3 linked regions of the Homo sapiens genome follow. The protein of the gene in region 1 interacts with the protein of each later gene in a pairwise test. Each region holds a gene or a part of one and is shown in the gene's direction. Other genes may lie near its edges.

What was found. The genes of interacting proteins can lie anywhere in the genome.
Region 2: the proteins of ATP1A3 (region 1) and ZBTB49 interact in binary tests that used the Homo sapiens proteins (3 or more experiments, as listed by UniProt).
Region 3: the proteins of ATP1A3 (region 1) and ESRP1 interact in binary tests that used the Homo sapiens proteins (3 or more experiments, as listed by UniProt).

The regions. Positions count from the first base shown.
Region 1 is NC_000019.10:41,965,940-41,970,230, reverse strand, and holds the end of ATP1A3 (sodium/potassium-transporting ATPase subunit alpha-3), read left to right. Parts: coding exon 1-46; intron 47-650; coding exon 651-796; intron 797-1,315; coding exon 1,316-1,446; intron 1,447-2,467; coding exon 2,468-2,569; intron 2,570-2,890; coding exon 2,891-2,982; intron 2,983-3,265; coding exon 3,266-3,294; 3' UTR 3,295-3,649; downstream 3,650-4,291. UniProt on the Homo sapiens protein: This is the catalytic component of the active enzyme, which catalyzes the hydrolysis of ATP coupled with the exchange of sodium and potassium ions across the plasma membrane.
Region 2 is NC_000004.12:4,307,251-4,314,250, forward strand, and holds part of ZBTB49 (zinc finger and BTB domain-containing protein 49), read left to right. Parts: intron 1-5,790; coding exon 5,791-5,864; intron 5,865-7,000. UniProt on the Homo sapiens protein: Transcription factor. Inhibits cell proliferation by activating either CDKN1A/p21 transcription or RB1 transcription.
Region 3 is NC_000008.11:94,700,174-94,707,173, forward strand, and holds part of ESRP1 (epithelial splicing regulatory protein 1), read left to right. Parts: intron 1-5,751; coding exon of another isoform or gene 5,752-5,772; 3' UTR 5,773-7,000. UniProt on the Homo sapiens protein: mRNA splicing factor that regulates the formation of epithelial cell-specific isoforms. Specifically regulates the expression of FGFR2-IIIb, an epithelial cell-specific isoform of FGFR2.

The DNA.
Region 1 (4,291 bases):
AAATTGGTCAATGAGAGACTCATCAGCATGGCCTACGGGCAGATTGGTGAGGCACCGGGGACTCCATCTCCTTACCACCCAGTGCCGGGCCTAGAGCAGTGCCTGGCCCACCGTGGGTGCTTGGGACCCTGGCATTGACTCAGGGGAGCAGACGTGGGCAGGACCAACCAGTGAGCTATCTGTGGGGGGGGTCTGCACCCCATCCTTCTCCACCTCCTCCTCTCTGCTGTTGATGTGTGCGGATCCCCAGAGGAGTGGAGCAGCCACCCTTGGGGGCTGTCCCAGCAAGCAGAGACTTCATGGCAGTGGTTCCAGGCCCAGGGAGGTCATTCCTGCGTAGGGAGCTCAAGCTGGGGATCCCCCAAGAATTCATGATGTTTAGGTGGCCTAGGTCAGGTGAGAGAGGGGCTCCAGGTTATCCCTCTGGGAGAGCCCTCTCTCCAAAGCCCCTGTCCCAGGTGGCCCACCCATCTCAGGGCCTCACCACCAAGTGAGACCTCAGGTCACCCTCTGGGAACCAATGTCCAGATAACAGGGCCAGGAGGGCATACTCCCCTCTCCAAGGAGGCCTCCGGGCCCTCTGAGGTGCCCTGGGTTGGCTGCTGGCCCCAATCTGAGCCTCTCCTCGGCTTCCTCTCTCCTCCTTCCAGGAATGATCCAGGCTCTCGGTGGCTTCTTCTCTTACTTTGTGATCCTGGCAGAAAATGGCTTCTTGCCCGGCAACCTGGTGGGCATCCGGCTGAACTGGGATGACCGCACCGTCAATGACCTGGAAGACAGTTACGGGCAGCAGTGGGTGAGTAGGGCAGGGTGCTGTGTCTCTGCCCACCGTAAGATCCCCGGGGTGAGCTGTTCCAGCCATGCATGGCCACTTCCTACGATGGCCCCCTCAGTCTCCCATGGCAGCATCAAGGCCTTTGCTGGGCACCTGGGGCTTCCTGGATGCCCTTGGCCCAGCCCATCTGGAGCCTTGTGTCCCACTGCTGGAGCTCTCTGCCCTGCCAGGCCTTCTTCCCCACCTCTGTCTGTCCCTTCAAAGCCCAGTTGCTGTCTGTCCTCCTTGGGAGGCCCACAGGGTCCTTATCCTCCTCCCTGGCCCCTGGTGGATGGTGAGATCACCATTAACCTTTCTTCTTCCTTGTACGTCTCCTGACTCCTCCCTCGGGACTATGAGCCCGCAGAAGGAAGACACACCTGAGGCCCTGAGGACCCCATGCAGGATGGGGCGGGGCAAAGAGCACCGGAACGTCGGGGTGGCGGCTAGGGCTGCAGTGCCACTAACTGACGTCCCGTGCCCTGGTCACCGCTCCTGCAGACATACGAGCAGAGGAAGGTGGTGGAGTTCACCTGCCACACGGCCTTCTTTGTGAGCATCGTTGTCGTCCAGTGGGCCGATCTGATCATCTGCAAGACCCGGAGGAACTCGGTCTTCCAGCAGGGCATGAAGTGAGGGCCGGGGGCACATGGTGACTGGACAGCCATCTGTCCTGTCCGAGTGTCTGTCTGTCTGTGTACTTCCTCTTGTGTCCTTGCTTTGGTTTTTTGTTGTTTTGTTGAGGCAGGGTCTCACTCTGTCACCCAGACTGGAGTTCAGTGGTGTAATCATAGCTCACTGCAGCCTCGACCTCCTGGGCTCAAGTGACCCACCCACCTCAGCCTCCTGAGTAGCTGAGACTACAGGTGTGCACCATCATATATGGCTAATTTTTATTTATTTATTTAGAGACAGAGTCTTGCTCTGTTGCCCAGGCTGGAGTGCAGTGGCACAATCTTGGCTCACTGCAACCTCCGCCTCCCGGGTTCAAGCGATTCTCATGCCTCAGCCTCCCAAGTAGCTGGGATTACAGGTACGCACCACCAGGCTCGGCTAATTTTTCGTATTTTTAGTAGAGTTTCACCATGTTGCCCAGGCTGGTCTCAAACTCCTGAGCTCAGGCAATCTTCCTGCCTCAGCCTCCCAGAGTGCTAGGATTACAGGTGTGAGCCACCATGCCCAGCCCATTTTGGGTTTTGCCACTGCACTGATTTTCTCTCAAGGGGTCCTGTGTGTCCTAGATTCTCTCTCAGCCTCTGTGTGTGTGGTGGAGGTGCCCCTGGCCTTTTCTTTTTATACCAGTGCCTCTCTGTGTCTGTCCCTGTCTCTGTGTCTGTTTCTGTCCCTGTCTCTGTGTCTGTCCCTGTGTCTGTCTCTCTGTCTGTCCCTGTCTGTCTCTGTGTCTGTCCCTGTCTCTGTGTCTGTCCCTGTCTTTTGTCTCTTTCTGTGTCACCATCGCTCTGCCTCTATCTTTGTCTCTCTCTGTCGGGGCATGTCTCCCCATCTCTGTCTCTCCCTATGTCTCTGCCTCTCTGTCTCTGTGTCTGTGCTGCTGTCTCTGGGTGTCTGCACTGTGCCTCCCCCTGTCTCTGCGGGGTGGCAGGTGCAGGGTGGGTGCTCTCTGGGCCCAGCCCTGCCCTTCTGTGCCTCCAGGAACAAGATCCTGATCTTCGGGCTGTTTGAGGAGACGGCCCTGGCTGCCTTCCTGTCCTACTGCCCCGGCATGGACGTGGCCCTGCGCATGTACCCTCTCAAGTGAGTGCCCCGCTGCCCCCAGCCCTGCCCACACCAGCGCCTGCCATGGAGCCTTCCCTTAGACTCAGCCTGAACCTCAGGCCCCACCTCCCCTGGTGTCCCCACTGCAGTCCCCATTCTGATGCCCCCGAGCCTCCCCCATAGGCTGCTCCCACCACGGATTACTCCGAAGACCCCAGGCCCCAGCCCCGCCCAGGGCACCCTCCACCTGTGAGCACGAAGGATCCTGGGAGACTGCCCCTCTGCGTCCCCTCCAGTCCCCTGAAACTCTGCCTCTCGTTAGGGCCCCGCACTCAAGCCCTCCTGCTCTCCCCTCTGCAGGCCCAGCTGGTGGTTCTGTGCCTTCCCCTACAGTTTCCTCATCTTCGTCTACGACGAAATCCGCAAACTCATCCTGCGCAGGAACCCAGGGGGTGAGGGAGCTCGGCAAGGCAGCCGAGGGGGGCGGGGGGCAGCAGGGTCTCAGGCAGCTGGTCCCAGGCTCCCCTCGCCCTGCTGGATGGCTCTGCCACCTGGTTCCCACTCTTCTCTCTCTTCCCATCTCTCCGGGCACCCACTCTGTCTTCTCACGGGTCTCTGTCTGTGTGGTTTCCTTGTCTCTCTCCCTCTCTGTCCCTCTCTCTGCTGGGCGGCTCGCCTTGCCTGTCTCTCTCCATCTCTTACTCTGTCTCTTTCTTTCCTTCTTTGTCTCTCCAGGTTGGGTGGAGAAGGAAACCTACTACTGACCTCAGCCCCACCACATCGCCCATCTCTTCCCCGTCCCCCAGGCCCAGGACCGCCCCTGTCAGTCCCCCCAATTTTGTATTCTGGGGGGAGGAGCCCTCTCTTCCTGTGGCCCCACCTTGGCCCCCACCCCCTCCACTATCTCCTGCCGCCCCCACTCTGGCTGGCTTCTCTCCCCTGCCCCAAACCTCTCTCCTCTCTCTTTTCTGTGTCAGTTTCTCTCCCTCTCCTCACCCCTCTATCCATTCCTCCCGCCCCAGCCACCTCCCTGGGCTCTTTTTTACTCCCCTTCAGCCCCCCGGCTGATGCCATCTCTGGTTCTGGACAATTATCAAATATATCAGTGGGGAGAGAGAAGCGGTGTGTGTGTTGTGCCTGCTTTCCAGACGGGGACTGCGGCTGGGACAGCATCCCCTCTGTTGGGGCGCGCTGCCAGGCGACTCTCGAAACTGCAGGAACTTAGCCTGGCACTGGCTTGGAAGTCACGGAATCTCAGAGCCATCTAATCACGGAGTTTTCAACTCCACGAAAGTCAGAGCAGCTTGAATTCACCAGGCGATGGCATTGTGGAATCAGAACAGGGGAGAGGGAGGGAAGCAGACGTGGGATGGTGACTGGGAGCCTCTCCTATAGGAGTAGGACCCAGGGGACACAATGACGATGATGATGGTGATGACAGTGATTCACTGAGTGCCTGCTATGTGCTCTGCCCACTTCTAAGTGTGCATTAAATGTGCACAGAGAGAAGAAGTGATTTGCACACAGCTAAGAAGAGACAAATCTGGGATTTGAACCAAGGCTGTCCAAAGTTCTAGGTCACTACGCTATTCTCTCTTTTTATTGAGATAAACTTTCATACAGTGAAGTGCACGCATCTTAAGGGTATAGCTCAATGATTTTAAAAATTGCATCTGCAGGCCAAGCGCGGTGGCTCCCGCCTGTAATCCCAGCACTTTGGGAGGCCCAGGCGGGCGGGTCACTTGAGGTCAGGAGTACGAG
Region 2 (7,000 bases), on another chromosome or scaffold:
AACACCCAGCAGCCAGCAGATGCTCAGGAAGGATTTGATAAGCTGAGCTGAGTGCTCGTCCCTCCAGCCGCCATTCTTGATGAGCCTCCGCTTCTTCCTGCCAGCCTGGCCTGGGGTTCAGAGCTTGGCCTCTGGGGCTGGACAGTCTAGAACTGAGCTCTGCCTCTGTCAGGGCGTCACTACCCTGTGACTTTGGGCAGTCTCACCTTTTGCCCCTTCAGTTTCCTTATCTGTGAAACACGGATAACAAGATTAGTTAACCTCATAGAGTGTGAGGAGTAAATGAGGTAATAACGGAAAGTCCTTAGAGCAGGGCCTGGCACATAGTAAGCGCTCAAGAAACGCCAGCATTCCCTACCTTGTTGCCATCCGCTTTCTCCTCTCCTGTCCATCCTCATGACCCCCAGATGCCGGTCTTTCTGAGGCACCTCCCCGCCCCCACCGTTTTCATCTCAGCAGCTGTGGTTTGATGGGAAAAGCATGAGACTCGGACTAATGACCATGAATAATTAGCAATTGCGACTTCTCTGGGCCTCATTTTTCTAATTCTTAAAATAGGGATAATACTACTTCGTGGAACTAGTGGGAAAATGAAATGAAAAACTAGAGCTGAAAGCCCTTTATACATTTAAATTATGTTGAGAGTAGAAGTTCCATCCTTCTCATGCTTTCTCTGACTCTCCATAGCTGACCATATAAGTTAAAACCCGACATTCAGTCAGGCTGCAGTCCACCTCCACTCCTCTCTCCTGGCACGGATCCTTGGTGCCCACATCAGAGATTCTGATTCTGTGATTTGGAGTGGGGCTTAGGTATTGATGTTTTATTTATTTATTTATTTATTTTTGATGGAGCATCGCTCTGTCGCCCAGGCTGGAGTACAGTGGCGCAATCTGGGCTCACTGCAACCTCTGCCTCCCAGGTTCAAACGATTGTCTTGCCTTAGCCTCCCAAGTAGCTGGGACTACAGGTGCGTTCCACCACGCCCAGCTCAGTTTTTATATTTTTAGTAGAGATGGGGTTTCACCATGTTGGCCAGGATGGTCTCAAACTCCAGACCTCATGATCCACCAGGCTCAGCCTCCCAAAGTGCTGGGATTACAGGCGTGAGCCACCGTGCCCAGCCACGTATCAGTATTTTTAAAAATTCAGCAATTTTGGTGTGCAGCCAAGGTTGAGAACCACCACTATAGCTCTTGACCTGCACTTGCTCTCTTAAATCTTACCAAGGGTAGCCCTGCCCGATCCAGAAACCCTTCCCTTCTGTATTGGTCTGTGTACTTTTGTTAGGTTTCTGTGATTGTAGAGTCATACATAGTGATAGTTTTCAGATGTATATTGCTGCTTTATTTTCATAGTAAAGTATGAATTTTGATGAACAAGGAACTGTTTTAATGTTTGTTGCAAGCCTACAGTGTCCATGTGCTGTCCATGAGCTCTGCTGTGTGCCGGGAAGGGGGACAGAAATGGCCATGGCCTCCAGGAGCTTATTGTTTAGAGGAAGCAACAGACGTGTAAATGATCGAGTACAGTGAAATGTTGGAACTGCTGACAGTTATCTACGGGAACAGTGTGGGCAAAGAAAAGGCAGTAGTCCTTTCTACCTGAAAGGTGTGTTTGGGACAGCATGAGGCCATGAAATGCTTGAGAGATTGCTTAGGTGAGCCCTGCAGACAAGCAGGCACTGGGCAAGCCTGGCATCCCTGGCATGCTGGGGCAAGAAAGCAGTCAGATTGTCTGCATAGGGATGCGTGGTAAAGAATGCCCACCGGCCCATCCTCCACCGTATGCCTAACATTATTTTCTTGTAATGAACTAGAATAAATGTTTGTGGTTACATGGAATTGGAATGCTGTTGTATAAAAACATTTACAAATAAGAATCCCTCATCCTGCTTACTGAGAATTTAGTATTTAGTAGGTTAGTCTTTTTAAAATAGTTAACCGCAGCCTGCATTATGAGGATGGCATGCCAGCATAAGGAAGTTAGCATCATCTTAGAGTGACCACAGAAGCTGCATCTGTCCGTGTGACTGGACACTGTATGTGTCCAGATCTCTGCAGGGAAGAGTCATGTCATACTTTAACGGAAGAGTCATGTCCTACTTTAGAGTATGACTGAGTCGCAGTCAGAGGGAAGTGTTTCCTCTGTGGCGTAGAACATGGACTGTTTGGAGGGCACTGGAGAGAACCAAAAGAGTGACAAGTTTTGAGCGCTTGTCATTTGAGAAACGGGAAAGAAAATGCGGCGTAATTACCTGTCTTTGGGGAGAGGAGTAGGATTGCTTTTGTTCCTCCAAGTAGGCAGAAACAGAAACACTGGGCAGCTGGTACAGAGAGACGGGTTTTGAGAGGCAGTACTCTGCCAGCAGCGCCGTCTAGCCAGCTGTCTGCCCGAGTCCGGGGGTCCTAGTGCCTTCTGCAGGATTACCCTATAGGAGGCATTTCCAGGGTGCTGATGTGGACTCATGCCAGAGGTGACAGTGTCAGCCATCCATGGTGGAAACACAAAAATAAGGACACTTAGTGAGCTTGGCCCAAGCTATTACATTGTCATCTCTGAGGTTATATTTGCCACACCTTTACCGTTGAATGTCCTTTTATCAAAATAGCAGTCATTGTTTAAGTGATATCTCTATGTTAAACCTTACATTTTTTTCTTTTTAATTTTATCGCTGTGTGAAATCCTAAAGTCTTGAAACTCCTGAGCTAGCTGACTTTTAATATCTGGGATCTCTTTTATCTCTAAATGATTACGATTCCTGACTTTTTTTTGATATAAACACTCAACTGCCGTTAAGAGTGCTCATGATAGGGAATAGATGCTGGGTTTGTTCATGTTTAAATACTGAGGTTCAAGTACCTGTCAGAAGGAGTTTATTATAAAAATTGCTGAAGGCAGATGTTAATTCTTCTCTACAGCATAGTTTTTCTGTTAAAAATTCTAACTCCATTTGAAGGTAAAATGGTATTAGAAAGGATCAAAGTTCCTTTACTGCTAATATCGTTAACATAGGTTTAACAGTCCAAACTTTGGAGTCACTAGGCAAACCTGAATTAGTGAATTCAGTCCCCATTTTATGACCCAAGGCTGGTTACTAACCTCTCAGAGCCTCTGTTGACTTCTCTGTAAAACATGGATAATACTGCTTTACAAGACATTGTGATGACTAAGTTAAATACTCTTCGCAACGGTTTAGCAAAGAGCTTCATTCATAGTAAGTTCTTAATAAACGAGAGCTATTATTACCACTTGCTAGAATTTTTTTTTTTTTTTTGAGATGGAGTCTTGCTCTGTTGCCCAGGCTGGAGTGCAGTGGCATGATCTCGGCTCACTGCAAGCTCCACCTCCTGGGTTCACGCCATTCTCCTGCCTCAGCCTCCTGAGTAGCTGGGACTACAGGCGCCCGCCACCATGCCTGGCTAATTTTTTTTTTTTTTTTGTATTTTTAGTAGAGACGGGGTTTCACCATGTTAGCCAGGATGGTCTCGATCTCCTGATCTCATGATCCACCTGCCTCAGCCTCCCAAAGTGCTGGGATTACGGGCATGAGCCACTGCGCCCGGCCTACTTGCTAGAATTTTTATGGACACAACTATAGGTGATTTCTAAGACATGGTCTGTGCACCTAAGATATCCTTAGTACTAGAATATATCAAAAGTTTACCAAAAATAAAAATATTGACTAAAGCTCTAATAATCTGGGCCTGAGTTTGCTGTGTAACCTGGAATAAATTATCTGAATGTACTATTGGATTTTTTGCATGGCCCATTCCATTAGTTTTATTTAATCTGCTTTTATATTATTTATCAGAAATATGCATTCCTGTATCAGGGAGAAAGATTGTTTTCATTATCTATTTCTAGTACAAAATAGGTAAAGAACACTTTAAAGATTTTTCTACCACTTAAAATATTAAATGGAAGATCATTTGATTATATTTCTTTTGAAAACAAGTAATCGTTATGCCATTTTTAAAAAGGAAAAATGCAACATTGCTAAGAATTAACCCAGAATGCATTTCATTCAGAATACATAGTTTACAAAATAACCGAAAAAAGAGGGCTCTAATTTAACAGTTCAGCAGATGGTGCTATTCCGATTATTATGCAACTGATCAGCTTTTCTGAAATTTGCAAGTGACTAATTTAAAACACTGGTGTATTATTTTTAACTCTCCAGTATGTGTTTCCTGAGTGGCAAAGTTACCGTCATATTGAATATTCAAAACACACTATTTCATTCATAGAAACTTGTGTTTCCTCAAGGTTTCCCCACAAGTAGAGGAGTTTAGATTCACAGCAACCAGTATTAATTTCTGGCCCCACCATGTAACTGAGACAACTCCTTTATTTATCTGAATACAATGGTAATTGTACAGTTTATCTGAATACAGTGTTAGTTGTATTATTATCTCAAGAAAATAGGTGGTAAAGGCCTAATTTGAAGTTCAGCAAATGTATATTGCTGTTGATATTTGTTTTATTGTTATTAGGAGCCATTCTATTAAAAGCTGGACATTTTCCAAAGTTTTGTCAAACTCTTTCTCTTTGGTTGTTGAAAATAAACTTGAGTTTTTTCGAAGCCACATTTATCATATTCTTAAATGTAATGTCTAACTCTGTTTCCCAGAATTTGATAGACATGATGAATCTTTCATGTTATATAGTCCGCAGATGGCATTTTTAATACTTGTGAATTCTAGTTTTCATTCACAAGTCAATATCAAACTCATCTTCAAATCTTAACCATGAATCTTAATCTTTGCATTTTATTTAAAATGCAATTTGCAAATTAAAAAAAGCCCCGTGTGTTAGTTGGCTAGTATTCATTCTCGTTTTTCACTTATCTTGTGCATGACACCTGCTCATTTTTACCGCTGGGTATATTACCTCATTTCAGTAGGTTTTCCTTTTTTTTCTTTTTCTTTTTTTTGCCACAGAACACTGTACAAAATTAAAATGAGGAAAATAAAGGTTGAGACTATTAACTTAATTACAGCAATGGAAGATTTTCCAAACCTAATTCGAAACATTAGCAATTAGCTTTTTAAATATCTGAGGCATTTGCAGTTTTAATTTCGCTGTACTTTAGGTAATTTAATATTGATTTCCTGTTGATTAGTACATAGAAATCCATCTGATGATCTCCGTTTCAGTGTTATTCTTCGCAAAGCCTTGCTAGTTTCAGAAATTAGGAACACAATGGCCCTGCACCTGAGAGGCTGCTGTGATTCTCCTGATTTGCCCTTTTGCACAAAGGTAAAATTGAGAAACCTGTCAGAAAGAACCAAGTGTACTTGCCAGAGGAAGTACTTTTTGGAAATGTCTTCCCTTCTTTATGAACAGAAGTATGTTTTTTAGAAAGAAACAATACTGAAATAAGGACGTATGGTGCTTTTGTTTGTTTTAAGTGATGTTTTAAATACATGGCCCAAATAAAATACATCAAGGCCTATTTAAAGTCCAGGCTTGGCGACCACCAAAGCAGCCTCCACAGGGTGCTGTTAAGAGGGAAGCACTGCATAGGGCCTGCCTGAACTAGGACACAGCCAAGGGCTCACATGGAGGACGGGGTGGAGACACATCTCGTGTACAGCAGGTGGCCAGGCACTCTGGCTGCTCTTCACGCTCTTGCCCATGGCTTCTTTTGAGTTGTGTGTAGCTCATCTTCATCTGGAATTTGAATTGGAACCTGGCTAAATGTGTCAGTTTTCCTTTTGAATTTATATAATTTAAAAAACCAAAAACTTTCATTATTGGTGTGTTTTTCTTTTCCTCTTTTTGCAGGCAGGTAACTTGCAGACTCACTTACGACGGCATTCTGGTGAAAAACCATACATCTGCGAGATCTGTGGAAAGAGGTCAGTGCTGGGCGTGTTCTTCCGTGTGGAAGGGAGCATGTCTAGTCTCAGTGTCTTTGGTAGTCAGTGTCTTCTGAAGTGGTGGCTCACAGATGAGCCACAGGTGGGCTCACCCTGCCACTGCAGAACACAGGTAAATTCAAACCTTCTGGCTTTGCATGTGACACACGAGAGAATAATAAAAAGAAAAGTTAATTCAAAGAAAGAAAAGCTGGGACAGGAGTCCCAAAAAGGAAATGGGGTTTTAAATGCAACAAAATTATTTTATACTAATATTTTCATTCATTCTAAAAATGTCTCTGAAAATATAATAGATTAATGCCCCCAAGGAGGTGACTGTCTAGTAGGGGAAATGGGACTTGGCAGCTGAGTGACTAGATTTCAGGAGAGAAGGAGGTGGTGGAAGGTGCCACAAGCCGTGGGTCTGTAACAGCCTGTGAGAGCTCCACCCCAGGGAGGAGGAAACTAAGTCTTGATGGGTGGGTAGGATTTTGACCTGGCAAAAGAGAATCTGACTCTTGACGTGGAATAAAGTGTGTGGCAGCTCGATTCCTCTGCAGCGTGGTATAAATGAGGAGCTCTTCCCCTGCTGTGTGTGCAGGCTGGCACCCTCGACCCTCCTTCCTGTCCTTGGGCTGTACGTCAATCAGGCCACGTACTCCATCATCTGGTGGTTGTGCCAGGACAACAGGCATCAGCCAGGACTATGCCAGTCACGAAGCTCTGTACGCACCTTGGTTACGTAGCTTTTATATTCATTTATTTAATCATTCATTGATTCAACATTTTTTAGACACCTGCTGTATGCCAAGTGCTATATGGGTCCATAAAAATAAACAGTACAGAGTCTCTGCCTGTCACAGATTCATACCGAAGTGCCTTGAGGCAAGAGATAGTCACGGGGTCAGTTAGAAGTCAGTGTCCTCATATTCAGTCTCAGCACATGCTGGGGAAAGCCGAGGAGGAAGCGACTCTCGATTCAGTTTCAGGAAAACCATTTCTCTGCCAATGGTAGAAAACAAACAAAAGCTGCGGCGGGCAGCGCATCTCCCTTTCTGCTGTAGCTACCTGAACGCTGAAAGTCAAGTTCAGGGCCCAGTGTCATCTGCCGCTCCTTCCAGATGCCTGGGAGCATA
Region 3 (7,000 bases), on another chromosome or scaffold:
ATGGCAAAGTGCTTCCAGTGGACTGCATGGTGGCTACCGAGATACGTCCACATCCTGATCCCTGGAACCTGTGACTATTACCTTCTATGGAAAAAGCTGTAATGAGGTTCTTGAGAGGAAAATAGATCATGAATTATCTGGGTGGTCCCTAGATACAATCACTCGTGTAAGAAAGAGGCAGAGGGAAATCAGACAGAGACACATACAGAAGAGGAGGCAGCAATGTGACGAGGGAGGCAGAGATGAGAGAGCTGTTGACACAGCCCAGGAGTGTTCCCAGCTACCAGCAGCTGGAAGAGGCAAGGACCTGACTGCTCCCTGGAGCCTCCAGAGGATGCACAGCCGCACTGACACAGTTTCTCATTCCTGGCCTCCAGAATTGTTAGAGAATGAATACCTCTTATTTTATGCCACCCAATTTATGGTAACAGCAGTGACAGGAAACTAACAGTATTTTTAAAAATATGTTAAGAGGGCCGGGTGTAGTGGCTCACGCCTGTAATCCCAGCACTTTGGGAGGCTGAGGCGGGCGGATCACGAGGTCAGGAGATCGAGACCGTCCTGGCTAACACGGTGAAACCCCGTCTCTACTAAAAATACAAAAAATCAGCTGGGTGTGGTGGTGGGCGCCTGTAGCCCCAGCTACTCGGGAGGCTGGGGCAGGAGAATGGCATGAACCCGGAAGGCAGAGCTTGTAGTGAGCCGAGATCGCGCCACTGCACTCCAGCCTGGGCAACAGAGCAAGACTCCGACTCAAAAAAAAATGTGTGTGTGTGTGTATGTGTGTGTGTGTGTGTGTGTGTGTGTGTGTTAAGAGGGCCGGGTGCGGTTGCTCATGCCGGTAATCCCAGCATTTTGGTAGGCTGAAGCAGGTGGATCATCTGAGGTCAGGAGTTCGAGACCAGTCTGGCCAACGTGGCGAAACCCTGTCTTTACTAAAAATAGAAAAAAATTAGCTGGGTGTGGTGGTGTGTGCCTATAATCCCAGCTACTCAGAAGGCTGAGGCAGGGGAATTGCTTGAACCTGGGAGGTGGAGGTTGCAGTGAGCTGAGATCACGCCACTGCACTCCAGCCTGGGCGACAGAGCAAGACTCCATCTCAAAAAAAAAAAAAAAGAATTGAGCGATTGATCTCATGGCTGGCTATAGGATCAGGTAAAGAAAGCTAACACCCACAGCGAGGTCTGGTAAAGAAGTCACACTATTCTGTCTTCTCTTGCCTTGTCCCATCAACCCAGCCAACACACGTTGACTATCCCACTGAATCAGTGGAGATATGCTTCATTTAACCATTCAAGATGCCCACAAGCCTTTCTGGGAAGGAGATTGGGTGTCGGGCTGGAAGAAATGCTTCCTCAGATCGCCAGAAAGGGTGTTTTTCTCCAGTTACTGTTACATTCCAAGTTGCTTTCTTCTTTTTCTTTTTCTTTTTTTTTTCTTTTTTTTGTCCCCATAGAGACAAGGTCTCACTATGTTGCCCCAGTCTGGTCTTGAACTTCTGGGTTCAAGCTGTCTCTCTGCCACAGCCTTCCAAAGGGCTGGGATACCGGCATGAGCCACTGTGCCTGGCCAAGTTCCAAGTTTCGTATCTGTTAGGTCTCAAAGGCAATGTCAGCCCCCAAATTTAAATCTATTAATGATATTTTGGCTTGTACATGGTAGCTTATGCCTGTGCATGGAAGATTGCTTGAGCCTGGAAGTTCAAGAATAGCCTGGGCAATGTGGTGAGACCTCGTCTCTACAAAAAATTAAAAGATAGCCAGGTGTCGTCATGCATGCCTGTAGTCCAAGTTACTCGGGAGGCTGAGGTGGAAGGATGGCTTCAGCCCAGGAGGTCGAGGTTGCGGTGAGCTGTCATCGTGCCACTGCCCTCCAGCCTGGACGACAGAGCGAGAGTTAATGAATGAAAACAAGTTTTACAAACTAAAGTTTTATATTAATACATAACTTTTGCTGTCATGATTATAATAATCATAGGGACATAGGGTTTTTTTGTGTTTTTCTGAGATGGAATCTCACTCTGTCACCCAGGCTGGAGTGTAGTACTTAGATCAGTGTTATCTTTCCCTTTTTTGTTATTGGACTGTCAGCCTTAAGCAACAGGGCTTTGCTTTTTTGATAGGTGTGTTTTCTAGGCCTTCCATAGGATCTGTTCTAAAGAGTTCAGATTACATAAACTTTCTAAATAATGAGAAATTCCTACTGAGAAATTTTATGCAAAAATAACACAGTATTTACCTCTGTCTGGACGGTTACCAGTTAATTACATGAAAAAATATAAAAACTGTATTTGATCATTTTGTAACTTTATGTTGCAAGTTCTTGTGTAAGATGATTAAAAAGAACAAACTTTTTATAAGATCTTATTTTTTCCATTTAGATAATCTGAGTCCAGAATAACAGTAAAAACACATAGGAAGTACTTATAGTTTCCTGAGTAGCTGGGACTACAGGCGCACACCACCATGCCTAGCTAATTTTTTGTATTTTTAGTAGAGATGGGGTTTCACCATGTTAGCCAGGATGGTCTCAATCTCCTGACCTCGTGATCCGCCTGCCTCGGCCTCCCAAAGTGCTGGGATTATAGGTGTGAGCCGCCACGCCCAGCCTTCAAGTGAGCCTTTTACCTTAGCCTCCCTGGTAGCTGAGATTATAGGTGTTCTCCACCATGCCTGGCTGTAGAATTGCAGGGTTTTTAAGGGATTATAGGTTCATTCTGTAGCATATAGCACCAGTGGTGAAATCCAGATATCTTTAAAGACTTCTTTGTATGTAATACTTTAATGACAGTGTATTACAAAATAAAAACATGTTTTAACACAGATCTTATTTGAAAGGGAAATCAGATTTGTAAATGTCTGCAGTTGTAATTCTCAACTTTGTTTGCTATAGCTAAACGGGAAGAGGAAACATTATCTCCTTCTGAGATTGATTGTTTTTTTTTTTTTTTTGCTAGCAGTTAGGAGTCTGCAGTTTCTTTTTGTTGTTGTTGTTGTTGTTGAGACAGAGTCTTGCTCTATCCCCAGGCTGAAGTACAGTGGCGCAATCTCGGCTCACTGCAACCTCCACCTCCCGGGTTCAAGCGATTCTCCTGCCTCAGCCTCCCGAGTAGCTGGGACTACAAGCACACACCGCTACTCCCAGCTTATTTATTATTTTTAGTAGAGACAGGGTTTCACCATGTTGGCCAGGATGGTCTCCATCTCGACCTCATGATCTGCCCGCCTCACCTTCCCAAAGTGCTGGGATTACAGGCATAAACCATCGCTCCTGGCCTCAGTTTCATTGTTACACAGTCAAACTCCACTGGCATTAAAAAACGGTTCGAGAAGGCTAAACGTTTAACTTTAACTTTTCCTGGCATTTCCACATTTTATCAGAATATGAAGGCTTAATTTTCAGCATCTACAAAGATGCTATTTCCTAGTATAAATGTGATAGGAATGAAGAAGTTGGTACTCACTGACTCTAATAACTGACAGTCCCAGGGTTGACTGATGTAGCTGGATCCAAGGGTTTGCTCATCCAAACTCACTCTCTGAGATACCCCTAGCAACACTTGGCCTTCACTGGCCTGGCTTACGTTCATCCTAAAACCACAATGACCTGGGATATGCAGGGCTCTAACTGGCCATGTCTGGGCCCCTTGTTTGGCTCAGTGGTAAAACTGCCTCTTAGGGGCTTGAGATTAGGTGATGGGGCAGTTGTTTTCAATTCAGGTGCTACTGCCAAAAGAGGGGTAAAATAGATACTGATCAATAGTGTTGGGTCATTGATTTTCTTATCTGAATTTAGTGTCAAAGGAGAAGCCTTTCAGCATGTGGTATTTTAAACTGAGTGCCAAATTGTGGTCACTTTGGAAACCACATTTAAAAGATGCATCCTAACCAATATTTCCATGTTTTTTAAATACCTGATATTAGATTTGTACCATTTGTAGAATCTATGTTATTAAGGCAGATTTAATCTTGAAATAAATTAATCTTCATGTGCTTCTGAGACTTTTTTTTTTTTTTTTGCTAGCAGTTAGGAGTCTTCAGTTTCATTGTTAAGCAGTAAAACTCCATTAGACATTTCATACTGGCCATATGAAATAAGACTGAAGTCTAAAACATTCCTGTTTTTCATTTACATGTCAAAGTATGCATAATGGCCATGTGTGGTGGCTCACACATGTAATCTCAGCACTTTACAGTACTTTAGAATGCCAGGCAAGAGGAACACTTGAGGCTGAGTTTGAGACTAGCCTGGACGACATAGGGAGACCCCATCTCTAAAATATATATATATCTCTTTTATTTAGCCTAGGGCCAGGTGTTGTGACTCACACTTGTAATCTCAGCACTTTGAGAGGTCAAGGCAGGAGGATTGCTCGAGGCCTGGAGTTTGAGACCAGACTGGTCAGGATGGTGAGAATCTGTCTTTACAAACAATTTGAAAATTAGCTGGATATAGTGGTGTGCCTGTAGTCCCAGCTGTTCAGGAGGCCGAGGTGGAGGATACCTTGAGCCCAGGAATTTGGGGCAGCAACGAGCTCTGATCTCACCACTGTACTCCAGCCTGGGTGACAATGCAAGGCACCATCTCTTTTTGAAAAAAAAAAAAAAAAAAAAAAAAAAACTGCAGTGAGCTATGATTGGATCATATCACTCCATACTCCATCCTGGGTGATGGAGCTAGACCCTGTTTCAAAACAATATATAATGCCTACTAAAAGTTCTTATTTTAAGGTTGTATGGTATATAAGTAAAATAACATAGTGGAACCAATCTGTATTAGTTTAAATCCTGCATCTGCCCATTACTAACTTAATCATTCTGTGCTTCAGTTTTTCCTTCTCTAAAATGGGGATAACAAGGTAATCTAAAAGGTTGTATGTGGGGATGAAATAAATTTATCCATGATCCATATAAAGGTGCTAATCATCAACTAGTCACAGGCATATAGAGCCCATATGTTTGCTGTTATGTCATGCCTTATTGCTTTTTTTTTTTTTTTTTTTTTTTTTTTTTGAGACAGAGTCTCCCTCTGTTGCCCAGGCTGGAGTGCAATGGCATGACCTTGGCTCACTGTAACCTCCACCTCCCAGGTTAAAGCAATTCTCCTGCCTCAGCCTCCCACATAGCTGGGAATATAGGCACACACCACTACGCCCAGCTAATTTTTGTATTTTTAGTAGAGATGGGGTTTCACCATGTTGGCCAGGCTGATCTCAGACTCCTGACTTCATGTGATCTGCCTGCCTCAGCCTCCCAAAGTGCTGGGATTACAGGCATGAGCCACCATGCCCGGCTCCTTATTGCTTCTTATTAAGTGTCTTAGAAATTATTTGGAATTTCTTATACTAGAATTTAACTTTAAAATTTTGTCTAAATTGTTTTGTTTATTTTGGTAATGATATTGAACCTCTAAGGAATGAATGAAATAGTCTCTCCAGAAAGGAGCTGAGCTGAGCAGGGAGTCGGAAACCATACATGTTAAACTAAACACATGATACTACAAAGGGTAGGAGTGGTGCAGAACGCCAACTACTGTGTAAACCATGGAAACTTCCTTGGCTAGTGCTGTACTCCCAAAGCCCTTGCCATGTAAATGCCAACTATGTCTGTGTGAAATAATAACTTGGACCATCTTAAGGCTTTTTTTCCACAAAGTCCTTGTGGAATTTGAAATCATTTTTGTGGCTGCTGAGAATGACATTTAGAGACTATAACATTTCCTTTTATTCACTTTTTTTTTTTTTTTTTTCAGTGTTTGAAAGATGTATGGTGATCTTGAAACCTCCAGACACAAGAAAACTTCTAGCAAATTCAGGGGAAGTTTGTCTACACTCAGGCTGCAGTATTTTCAGCAAACTTGATTGGACAAACGGGCCTGTGCCTTATCTTTTGGTGGAGTGAAAAAATTTGAGCTAGTGAAGCCAAATCGTAACTTACAGCAAGCAGCATGCAGCATACCTGGCTCTTTGCTGATTGCAAATAGGCATTTAAAATGTGAATTTGGAATCAGATGTCTCCATTACTTCCAGTTAAAGTGGCATCATAGGTGTTTCCTAAGTTTTAAGTCTTGGATAAAAACTCCACCAGTGTCTACCATCTCCACCATGAACTCTGTTAAGGAAGCTTCATTTTTGTATATTCCCGCTCTTTTCTCTTCATTTCCCTGTCTTCTGCATAATCATGCCTTCTTGCTAAGTAATTCAAGCATAAGATCTTGGAATAATAAAATCACAATCTTAGGAGAAAGAATAAAATTGTTATTTTCCCAGTCTCTTGGCCATGATGATATCTTATGATTAAAAACAAATTAAATTTTAAAACACCTGAAGATAAATTAGAAGAAATTGTGCACCCTCCACAAAACATACAAAGTTTAAAAGTTTGGATCTTTTTCTCAGCAGGTATCAGTTGTAAATAATGAATTAGGGGCCAAAATGCAAAACGAAAAATGAAGCAGCTACATGTAGTTAGTAATTTCTAGTTTGAACTGTAATTGAATATTGTGGCTTCATATGTATTATTTTATATTGTACTTTTTTCATTATTGATGGTTTGGACTTTAATAAGAGAAATTCCATAGTTTTTAATATCCCAGAAGTGAGACAATTTGAACAGTGTATTCTAGAAAACAATACACTAACTGAACAGAAGTGAATGCTTATATATATTATGATAGCCTTAAACCTTTTTCCTCTAATGCCTTAACTGTCAAATAATTATAACCTTTTAAAGCATAGGACTATAGTCAGCATGCTAGACTGAGAGGTAAACACTGATGCAATTAGAACAGGTACTGATGCTGTCAGTGTTTAACACTATGTTTAGCTGTGTTTATGCTATAAAAGTGCAATATTAGACACTAGCTAGTACTGCTGCCTCATGTAACTCCAAAGAAAACAGGATTTCATTAAGTGCATTGAATGTGGATATTTCTCTAAGTTACTCATATTGTCCTTTGCTTGAATGCAATGCCGTGCAGATTTATGAGGCTGCTATTTTTA